Linked DNA regions of Homo sapiens: region 2 is linked to region 1. The links come from fine-mapping of genetic effects on gene expression. A gene starts in region 1. The other region holds a variant in brackets. All regions are shown on one strand. Distances are from middle to middle.

What was found. PIP is the estimated chance that this variant, and not a neighbour inherited with it, causes the effect. A credible set is the group of variants that fine-mapping cannot tell apart.
Region 2: its variant is the best candidate, but not a certain one, in a credible set for the expression of ECT2L in prefrontal cortex (BrainSeq, PIP 0.79).

Annotation. Positions count from the first base shown.
Region 1 is chr6:138,793,055-138,798,440 of GRCh38, reverse strand. ECT2L (epithelial cell transforming 2 like) reads right to left here and starts at 2,354. Exons shown (of 22, transcript NM_001077706.3): 1 at 2,249-2,354. It overlaps CCDC28A (coiled-coil domain containing 28A), which reads right to left. Exons shown (of 6, transcript NM_015439.3): 6 at 5,122-5,386.
Region 2 is chr6:138,909,851-138,915,236 of GRCh38, reverse strand. It overlaps REPS1 (RALBP1 associated Eps domain containing 1), which reads left to right. Exons shown (of 20, transcript NM_001286611.2): 15 at 476-540; 16 at 2,287-2,472; 17 at 3,866-3,961. Among named protein-coding and RNA genes, the nearest start is that of REPS1, 76 kb to the left of the region's middle. The variant G/A (reference allele first, on the strand shown) is at 2,211.

The DNA of each region.
Region 1 (5,386 bases):
CCTGACACAGAGCTCCGAAATCCCTTGGAATTTCCTGGGTGATAGGAGCATCTTTTGTTCAGATGAAGTGAATCTTGGTGGACCCCTAGATAGCTTCAGGATGGGGGCTGGTTACCAGGGAAACCAACCATGTGATTATGCAGCTGGAACTTTCAGCTCCATCCTCTGACCTCTGGGGAAGAGAGAAGGGCTCAAGTTGAGTGATCACCAATGGCCAATGATGTCATCAATTGTGCCTATGAATGAATCCTCCATTAAAATCCCAAAGGACAAGATTCAGGGATCTTTGGGATAGCTGAACATGTGGAGGGGCTGAGAAGGCATGGAAGTTCCACACCCTTGCCCACATACCTTTCTCTGGGCCTCTCTTCTATCTGGCTATTCATCTGTCCTTTGTAATATCCTTTATAATAAATGGGCAAACATAAGTAAAGTGTTTCCTTGAATTCCGTGAGTCACTCTAGCAAATTAATCAAACCGGAGGAGGGGCTTGTGGGAATCCAGATTTGTAACTGGTTGGTTAATCATAAACAACATATAGTCACAACCTGGGACTTGTGATTGGCATTTGAAGTGGGGGGCAGTCTTTTGGGACTGAGCCCTGAACGTATGGGATCTGACACTAACTCCAGGTACACAGTGTCAGAACTGGGTTAAATTATAGGACGTAGAGTTGGTGGCCACTGGAGAATTGGTTGTCGGTGGGAAGAAATTCCCATACATTTTGGTGACAAGAGGTGAAGGGCTGTACTGAGTGTGTGAGAGTAAAGAGAAAAAAGTTTTTTGTTTTTTTTTTCCTCTCAGAACAACCAAAGCCAGATTAAAAGATGAAATGGCTGAACAATTGCCAGCCCATATAGAGAGCTAAATCCTCACTGGGATCACACAGAAGAGCAATGATGTCAATTAACTGTGTTTCCACAGGTTATCTGTTATACAGCTGGAGAAATGCAAGTTAGTCTGGTCCTTCTCCACTACAGTAGACAGAGTGGCTTAGAAATTAAAACACTGCTCCTCGGCAGAGGTATGTACCTACATGCGCGTACTTCTGCAATTCACACATGCAAATTGTGCAATGATTCCTTTATTTATCAAAAATTTACTTCCTTAAATATGCCTCCAAAAAGGTATCTGGTTCTAAAGATCGCACAAAAGAACGGGAGTAGAAGAAAAGTAAGTGTGATTGGTGAAAAAACAGAAATGAAAGACAATTCCAGTTGAGTTAAATGTCCCACATTTAGGGCATGTAAAACTACATGCCAGTATATAATTTTTATTAAGTACACACTAAGCAATGGATAATGAAAATAATGGCGTGTTTTGAGGAAACCTGGGCTATTGATCTTACAGGCGGTGATAGAAAATACCATACTTGTGCTGGTATTTTCAAATGGTGGATGTGCTCACTGATTTATAAGTTTAAAGCTATAAAACTAAAGCTGTAACAAACAAGATGCAACTGTTGCTATAAAACTTCCAAGTCCTTAACCCTTCTTCCTCCCACTGAAATAAGTGTTTGTAGAGCATGATTTTTGAGGTTTCTGTGGAGCACAAATGTCAGTTCCTGCAGAACAGACTTTAACAGGCTTGGATACAATTGCATGGGTTGCAGTGAACTTTAACACCAATGATGTCAGGATATTGTGTTCTGATACATATGCAAAGTTTATTAATAAGCACAGCATCGGTATTTTTAAATCGATATTTTAAAGTACCACTGTTTTATTTGTCCTGCTCATCAAATCTTAGCATATTAACTCTTAGAGCTATCCTTATAACCAAGACCTATATTCACAGTAGATTTTTTGTATTCCTCCCTCATTCCCCCAACCCAGCCCCCACCCTACTCCCTACATTTTTGGACCCCATAGGAGGAAAGAGGGAGAGAACTGTCAGAAGGAAGAAGGCAGTTGGTGTGAACCTATGAAAATCAGCGTTTTCCAAAGTGTTCAAGAACTTTACTTCGATCCCAAATCAGTTCTCTGGAGGAGGTAAGAGTTTACTTGGCATGGCCCGATGCAAACCCTACCCTACGCGTGGATTTTGTTTCTCCCCAGAGCCTCTTCAGAATCTTGGTTAATTCCAGAGCTGCTAAGGGACTCCAGGGTCGCGGAGGGAGGGCCCTGCGCCCCTCAGCGCTGCTTAGGGTCTTCCTGGGCGACTGCACTGGGAAACTAAGCCGGCCCAGGCGATGTGCCCCGGGCGGCCCCAAGAAAAAGACTAGCGGCTCAGAAGCCACGGGCTTTACCTCTAGGAAGTGGCTATGAGGCCCGGTACAGTGGCGGCTGTCTCCTCTTGGAACCGCGCAGTGAAAATCGAGTGCGCCAACTCGGGCCGCAGCTCCGGAGAGGGGTGGGGCAGGGACAGGGTCATCTCCATAGGGATCCAACAACACGGAGCCACCACCCCGCCCCACAGGCCCGCAGCCCCTCCCGCCGCCGCGCCCGGACGGCCAACCTGCATCTCCCCAGCTGCAGTGAGCAAAGCCGCCCGCGCCGTGCGAGCCACCGCCCTTCTCTTGAGGCCAGCTAGGCTCGGGTCCCGGCTCCTTTCCCTGCCTCCAGGGAGCTTGCGGTGGGAGAAAGCTTCCGTGGGGTCCCGTGGGTCGCGGCACGTCTCGGAAGCCCTGCGAGGTGCCCAGCAGAGGTGCCAGACCCAAGGCCGTGGGACCCCAAGAAGAGACTTGGACACTGAAGCCAACGTTTGCTTGATCTCAAACAAAGCCAGCGATGTTAATTAAGGCTGTGTGATGAGGAAAGTGGAGTTTCTTATTTTTTGTCACATTCATCTTCAGCAGATCCTCAGAAAATGTTAATATTTACTGCAGAATTACCAATTTCAGCATTATACAGGAGGTACAAAAACAAAACCAAAAAACCCTTCTTCATTAGTTTCAGGTCAAAATGTCTTTTAACTATTTATTGTGAAGCCTGTTTTTTTCTTTTGTATGTAATAGTTATGGCCATGAAAAGATGCTCACAGTACATTACTTACAAAAAGCAGCTTAGAAAACCAGCAGAATGGTACGATCTATTTTTTTTGCAACGTGTGTAAGAAATCTGGGAGTATGTACACAAATAGGTTAAATGGTTTGCTCTGGTAGTTTTAAAAATCATCTGTAATTCAATTTTTCCTACAACGAATAAGCAACATCTATGTAATAAACCATAAGTTTCATTCTAGTAAAGTTTCATATGAGAAATGTGATCTTGCTATGCTGCCTAGGCTGGAGTGCAGTGGCTATTCACAGGCCTGGTCATTGTGCACTATATTTTTATTTTTATTTCAAATATCTTTTTCTTTTTCATCTGTATGCCAGTAAAATCATCATTGTACACTATAGCCTAGAACTCCTGGGCTCAAGCAATCCTCCCGCCTCAGCCTCCAGAGTAGCTAAAAGTACTGGTGCCTGTCACCAAACCAGGCCTTAAATTTTATTCTAATCCAGGCACTGCATTTTTTCCTGTTTCCTTGAACATGTGTTTAAGGAGTGTGAAAGGATACAAATTAGATAAGCTAATATTTCGCTACCTGGGACCCATTTAGGGCCCTGTGACACAAAGGGCGAATGAACCAAGTGAATAAACAAGGTCAATCCACTGCTCTGTCACAACCCGCAGGAACCAGCTTTTTGCTTTACTCTATCTCAGGACCAATCCAAGAAAAACATGTCACATGACAAAGTGTCCTTTCGCCCTGTCAGACCCTAGAGTACGACTTTTTCCCCCTTAAATCCCTATTCTCACAACCCAAATGAAGTTTCCTCCATGATGCTGTAATTTTTAAAAGGGGTATTAAAAAGACCAATTTACTGATCAAAATACTTTGAATTCAGAAAGCCAAAAATTATTAAAATCAAGATTTGAAAAATATTCAGTAAGTCCCTCTCCTCCCCTCCCCCAATTAGGTGCTTATTTCTGTGGCCTGGAAACAAGGAGACAGAAGCATGAGCATCTTCTGCAACACAAAGGTAACTGAGTTATAAATAAGCAAAATGTGTTCTATCCATACCATGGCATATGATCAGCCAAAACAAGAAATGAAGTACATGCAATAACATGGATGAAGCTTCAATCCTTGAAAACATCATGCTAAGTAAACGAAACCAGTCACAAAAGGCCACGTATTGTATGATTCCATTTATATAAAATGTCTAGAATAGAAAATCCAGAGAGCTGGAAAGGAGGTTAGTGGCTGCCAAAGGCTGAGGGGATTAGGGGACAAGGAGTGACTGTTAATGGGATTCTTTTTAGTGTGATGAAAATGTTCTAGAATTAGATCACGGTGATGGGTATATAACTCTATGAATCTACTAACAATCACTGAATTGTACACTTTAAAGGGGTACATTTTATGACATAAATTATTGTTTCAATAAAGCTGTTTTTAAAGGGTGATGAAATTAATGTTTACTGAGCATTACTGGTATCAGCTATTGTGCTAGGCATCTCTCTTTTTTTTTTTTTTTTTGAGACAGAGTCTTGCTCTGTCGCCTAGGCTAGAGTGCAGTGGCACAATTTCGGCTCACTGCAACCTCTCTGCCTCCTGAGTTCAAGCAATTCCTGTGTCTCAGCCTCCCTGATAGTTGGGATTACAGGAGCCCGCCACCACGTCCGGCTAATTTGTGTGTATGTGTTTTTAGTGGAGATGGGGTTTCACCATGTTGGCCGGTCTGGGTATTGAACCCCTGACCTCAAGTGATCCACCTGCCTCAGCCTCCCAAAGTGCTGGGATTATAGGCGTGAGCTACCGTGCCCGGCTTGTGCTAAGCATCCTATACGCGCTTTTTCACTTACTCCCCATACAACAACTACCAACTTGGTTACTGACCTCATTTTCTAGATTTAAAAAAAAAAAAAAGAAAAAAGAAAAAAATCCAACCTGAGTAAACGTGCATGAACACAAAGTTAAGGGGGCAGAACGGCGATTCAAATTAAGGTGTAAGTAACTTTAAAGCTCACATTCTTTCATCACACCAGTATTTAAATGTACACAAGGTACAGAATTTGCAAGGAGTTCAAGAACCTCAAATTTTATAAACACAGTTTACTTTTAAGGATTGAACCCTTGTATTTCCCAGATTGAAGACTATATGGGTTTCTTCAAAACAGACAACAGAGATTAATTTAAAACAATTACTTTATTAAAAAATAGCAAATCTCACAAATACTTATTTAATTTCTTATCACTGGCCATTGGAAAACACACCAGCATGTGTACTGATTGTCTAACATAAACTGAAGCTGGGCTTGCCACAAGACGCCTGTGCATCAACAGCTTGCGATCAACACTGGAATAAGTTTGGTGAGCTCAGGAAAGAGAAATCCCTCCGCCCTGTCAAGAACATCAGCACAATGCATTTCAAGTATAATCCCATAAGGCAACA
Region 2 (5,386 bases), 120 kb before region 1:
TACCCAGGTTTTTAATTTTTGAAGAACTGGCAGTATTGTTGTTACCTTGGTTAAAATAGAAAAGTTAGGGCAGAGGATGATGAAGTTATGTTTTAGTCACTGTGAGTTTAGAATGGTGAGGAAAAGTGAAGTGTTAAGTGAAAGGGAAAATTTGGAAGTTTTCATTTGATACCTAAACAGCAGTCAGAGATACACGAAGAAAATCAAGATTGTTTGCTATTATGGGAATAGGCAGGAGTATGCCAGGAGGGCTTCATGTAATAGAGGTAAGAAGCAAAGTGAGATCTGATGAAAGGCTGTGAGATTTGGTCTTTAGGTTACATACAGACCATGTAACAAGTTAGTACTTGCCTTCTAATACTTAACAAACATTCTTAGAAATCTTTATCATGTAGTCACATTCATTCAGCCTATTTCTTCTATTAACAAAGTGATTATACAGTTACTAAAAAGAAGAACTTTTGTATTCATGCAGGACAACAACAGGCTGGAGTTGTTGCCCATCCTCCTGCAGTGCCTCCAAGACCACAGCCCTCACAGGTAATTCTCCAAGGTATTTATTACTAAATGTCCCATGATCACTTTGCCTGCTAGGTATTTAATTCTATTCTCAAATTATTTGGAAGGTCAGGAATGATCTGTTGGTAATCTTTAATGAGCATTTAATTCAGTGAGGCTGAATCTCATTTTGAAAGATGCACATTTCAAGAATGATCTGAGTTATTTTTTGAAAGAGCCTTAAAAGTGAAACAAATGATAATGTCTTGACAGAGAAGAGTTTAGTGGAAACAACAATGGATTGGGAGATAGGAAATATCCATTAATGTCCTGGGTCTAGCAGTGACTCACAAAATCACTTCACCAGGCTGGGTGCAGTGGTTCACACCTGTAATTGCAGCACTTTGGGAGGCTAAGGCAGTAGGATTTCTCAAGCCCAGGAGTTCCAGACCAGCCTGGACAACATAGTGAGACCCCCATCTCTAAAAACAAAACAAAAAAATTAGCTGGGTGTGGTGGTGTGCACCTGTAGTCCCAGCTACTTGGGAGGCTGAGGTGGGAGGATCTCTTGAGCCTGGGAGATCAAGGCTGCAGTGAGCTGTAATTGCACCACTGCACTCCAGCCTGGATGACAGAGTGAGACCCTGTCTCAAAACAAAACAAAATACCCCTAAATAACCTCACTGCATCTCTCTGGATGTGTTTACCACATGAGTTAAGGAAGTATAATGACCTCTGCATCCCTTCCACATCAAAATTAGAGTGCTGTAGTAGACATTTATAAAATGCTTTGGGACAGCCTTAGTGGCTAAAGTTAAGGATCACATTATACATGAAATGAAGGAATGAGACTTAGCAGGGACTTGAAAGATAAAGTGGAATTTATTGGGGAAAAGGTATTCCAAACCGAAGGTATGACATCCACAAAGCGATGGAGGTTTGTGTTAAGCCTGGCACATTCCTCAGGGGAAAACAAGTTAGTTCAGCACAACAGGAGTAGATGTGTGGAGTGATGAGAAATGAAGCTGTCCATATCGTAGTAAGAAGGATAGACTTTTTCTTAGAGGAGATGAAGAATTTTTAAAGGGAAGAGACTTCAGATTTCTTTCTTTAGTATCCTTTACTTCCTTTGTCATAAAACATCTCACACTCTATTTTAATTTCTTATTTACTTATTCTCTTCTCCTGCTCCGGACTGTCAGCTTTATTAGAGTATAAGTGGGCCTCATTTGTTTTGTTCACAAGTACATATTCAGTAAACATATTTTTAGACTGAAGATGGAGCAGCATTGGTCTGGCTGGCAAAGGAGTGGAAGATGAATTGAAGGGAAGTGTTCCTGACATGTTGGGAGGATAGAGCAGTGGTTTTCACACTTTTTAGAGCAAGCTTTTTAAGAAACAGTGAAACATTAAAAAAAAATAACTTATTTAAGGAAGAAACTATTGTGCATTAGTCCAATTAAGAAAAAAACACATGCAAGTGGAGAATGGGGGTAGGGCCAGACCTACCCTCTCCTTCATTGTACTTTCTTTGCAATACAGTTTTTGAAAAAAAATATCTTTTTATTGGAGGTTTATCATCTTAATTTTTTTTTTAGTGTCTTAGCTTTTCACTTATGGTTTAATCATTTCTTTAGAGCTAAATGTTACTATAATACACCTCTCTGAACTTACAGATAATAAAACAGGTCATCTTTATATACTAAGTTTTC[G/A]AAGAAGAAGAAGATGACTCTGTGACACTGATAGGCTGATAGAATGTGTGTTCCTCTGTTCTGAACCATTGCACAGGCTCCTGGTCCTGCTGTGCATCGCCCAGTGGATGCCGATGGCCTCATAACTCACACTAGTACCTCACCTCAGCAGATACCAGAGCAACCAAATTTTGCAGATTTCAGTCAGTTTGAAGTATTTGCTGCATCAAATGTAAACGACGAACAAGATGATGAAGCCGAGAAACATCCAGAAGTCCTGCCGGTCAGTTTTCGAGGGCTTGGCTAATTTTCTGCAGGCAGTCACTTCCCATACCATGTTGTGTCAACAGAGCAGATATTAGAGGGGACATCAGTGAGTAAAATATTCCCTGGGTCAGTGCTTCTCATCTTTTTTATTGGCCTCCAATATCTGCTGGTTGCAGTGTAATGCTTACTAAGTATCAGAGTCTGGTGGGGGTGGGGGATTGATATCACATGCAAAGACACCACCGCCTGGCCGTGGCTAAAACGCTGCTTTGGGGGTTTCCATCTTAATGCTAAGCATCTGTCTGTGTGATTTGGTGAAGATTTCCCTGTCATAAGAGGCCATGGTTACCATAGCTCCACTCATTGCAACTTTTCCCCAAGGGGAATTTCACTATATGTAACTTTTAGATCTAATTACAACTTTAACTAAAAACAAATTTCAGCCAAACTTCTAATTAAAGCATTTAAAATTTGTATGAGAGTAAGTTGCCTTAGTTAAGCAAAGACTATAGGATACCAAAATTTAATATTCACAGTGTTCTAGGATATTCTATTGTAGTTCCAATGGCAAGAACCTCTCTAGGAATCTCTGACCTAAATTGCTGAGCATAAATGTGGAGTTGGAGAGACCAGAGGAATTCTGCAATCTCTTTCTTATAGGTCATAGCCATGGAAAATTTCCTACTAGCTCCCTTTTAAAACCTACAACTTTCTGCCGTGCCCATTAGGGGACTGGGCTGCATCTAGGAGGGTCAGAGTGGGCATGTAGAGGTGTGCACAGGGTACCGTACTCACTCCCCTGGGTGGATGCCTCCCTTCTCCCAACCACGAAGACTTCCCAGACTAACCACTTAGAGGTTCGGTGCAGTGGCTGCATCCTCACCCCGTCCTCCTCTCCCTCACACATTTATGACCTGCATCCTCGCCTGTCCTCCTCTCCCTCACACATCTATTACATAGCTGCATCCTCGTCCCCTCCTCCTCTCCCTCACACATCTACTACCTGCATCCTCACCCCATCCTCCTCTCCCTCACACATCTACTACCTGCATCCTTGCCCCGTCCTCCTCTCCCTCACACATCTATTACCTGCATCCTCGCCCCATCCTCCTCTCCCTCACACATCTGTTACCTGCATCCTCGCTCTGTCCTCCTCTCCCTCACACATCTGTTACATAGCTGCATCCTTGCCCTGTCCTCCTCTCCCTCACACATCTATTACCTGCTCTCCCATCTGCCTTTCAGTAGCAGAGAAGGCTCATTTAATAAAGTTCCTTCAAGTTTCTTATCATCATCTCAGTTTTCTTGTCAGAATATTTAACATTTTATTCTGATTTGGTACATATTCTATATTTATGCATAATTACATGTTATGTAGAATTAATAGTGATAAACATATTCATTTTTAGGCTGAAAAAGCTTCTGATCCTGCAAGTTCTCTTCGAGTTGCCAAAACAGATAGTAAAACTGAAGAAAAGACAGCTGCTAGTGCTCCTGCCAATGTGGTATGCAAAATGTCTTTTATAATAATAATTTTGTACATCATAAGTAATGTGAAATAATTTTTAGAAATAAGGTCAGCCAGAAATCATCTAACCCATTTCTCTGCCTTTAACTGTAGTATAGTCAGTCTAGCTCAGAACAAAGTCTGCCTATTTAATGGAGATGATATTCTGTAATCTATGTTAAGTATGTGTCACAGGTTCTCAAAATTTAAGTGGTTATTGCATTCTTCCCACTATATAAGGTAGAACTTCTTTATAGGTGAAATTCAGTTTCTTTTATTGTAGTCTTCAATATAATAAAGAAAAATTATCAGCCCTCTAAGGTTGTTATTATTCCCTGTTCTCTTAACTTGTTCTTTAACTGTTTTAGGTATAATTTTTTCCCCCAACATTTTATTATGAAAACGTTTAAGCATACAGAAAAATTGAAACAATTTTTCATTGTACATCAGTAAATTCACTACTTTATACCATTATTATTTTAGGATACTTGCTTTACTACATATCTCTCCATGCCATCTGTTCATCTGTCAATCCTTATATGTTTTATGTCTGTGTTAGTCCGTCTGCATTGCTATAAAGGAATATGTGAGACTGGGTAATCTGTAAAGAAAAGAGGTTATGCCGGACACAGTGGCTCACACCAGTAATCCCAGCACTTTGAGAGTCCAAGGCAGGCGGATCACTTGAACTCAGGAGTTTGAGACCAGCCTGGGCAATGTGGCGAAACCCCGTCTCTACAAAAAGTACAAATATTAGCCGTGTGTGGTGGTATGCGCCTATAGTCCCAGCTACTTGGCAGGCTGAAGTGGGGGGATCGCTTGAGCCTGGGAGGTGGAGGTTGCTGTGAGCTGAGATAGTGCCCTACACTCCACCCTGGGTGACAGAGTGAGACCCTGTCTCAAAAAAAGAAAAGAGGTTTATTTTGCCTCATGGTTCTGCATGCTGTACAGAAAGCATGGTACCAGCATCTGCTTCTTGTGAAGCCTCAGGAAACTTAGAATCATGGCAGAAGGCAAAGTGGGAGCCGGTGTGTCACATGGTGAGTGAGGGAGCAAGGAGAGATGCCAGGCTCTTTAAACAGCCAGCTCTCATGTGAACTCAAGAGTAAGAACTCATTCATTACTGTGAGAAGGGCACCAAGCCATTCACAAGGGATCTATCTCCATGACCCAAACACCTCCCACTAGGCCCACCTCCAACATTAGAGGTCACATTTCACCATGAGATTTGGAGGGGACAAATATCTAAACTATATCAGTGTACTTTAGATTGCAAGTATCAGCACACTTTCCCTTTGAGGGAATAATTTTGGTAACTTTTTTTTTCTGTTATCTAGACATTCCCAATAGTTATAAAAACAGCATGTGTTTCTGAAGTGCTTAAATTCTACTTTCTGGACACTGTGTGTGTATTAGTCTGTTT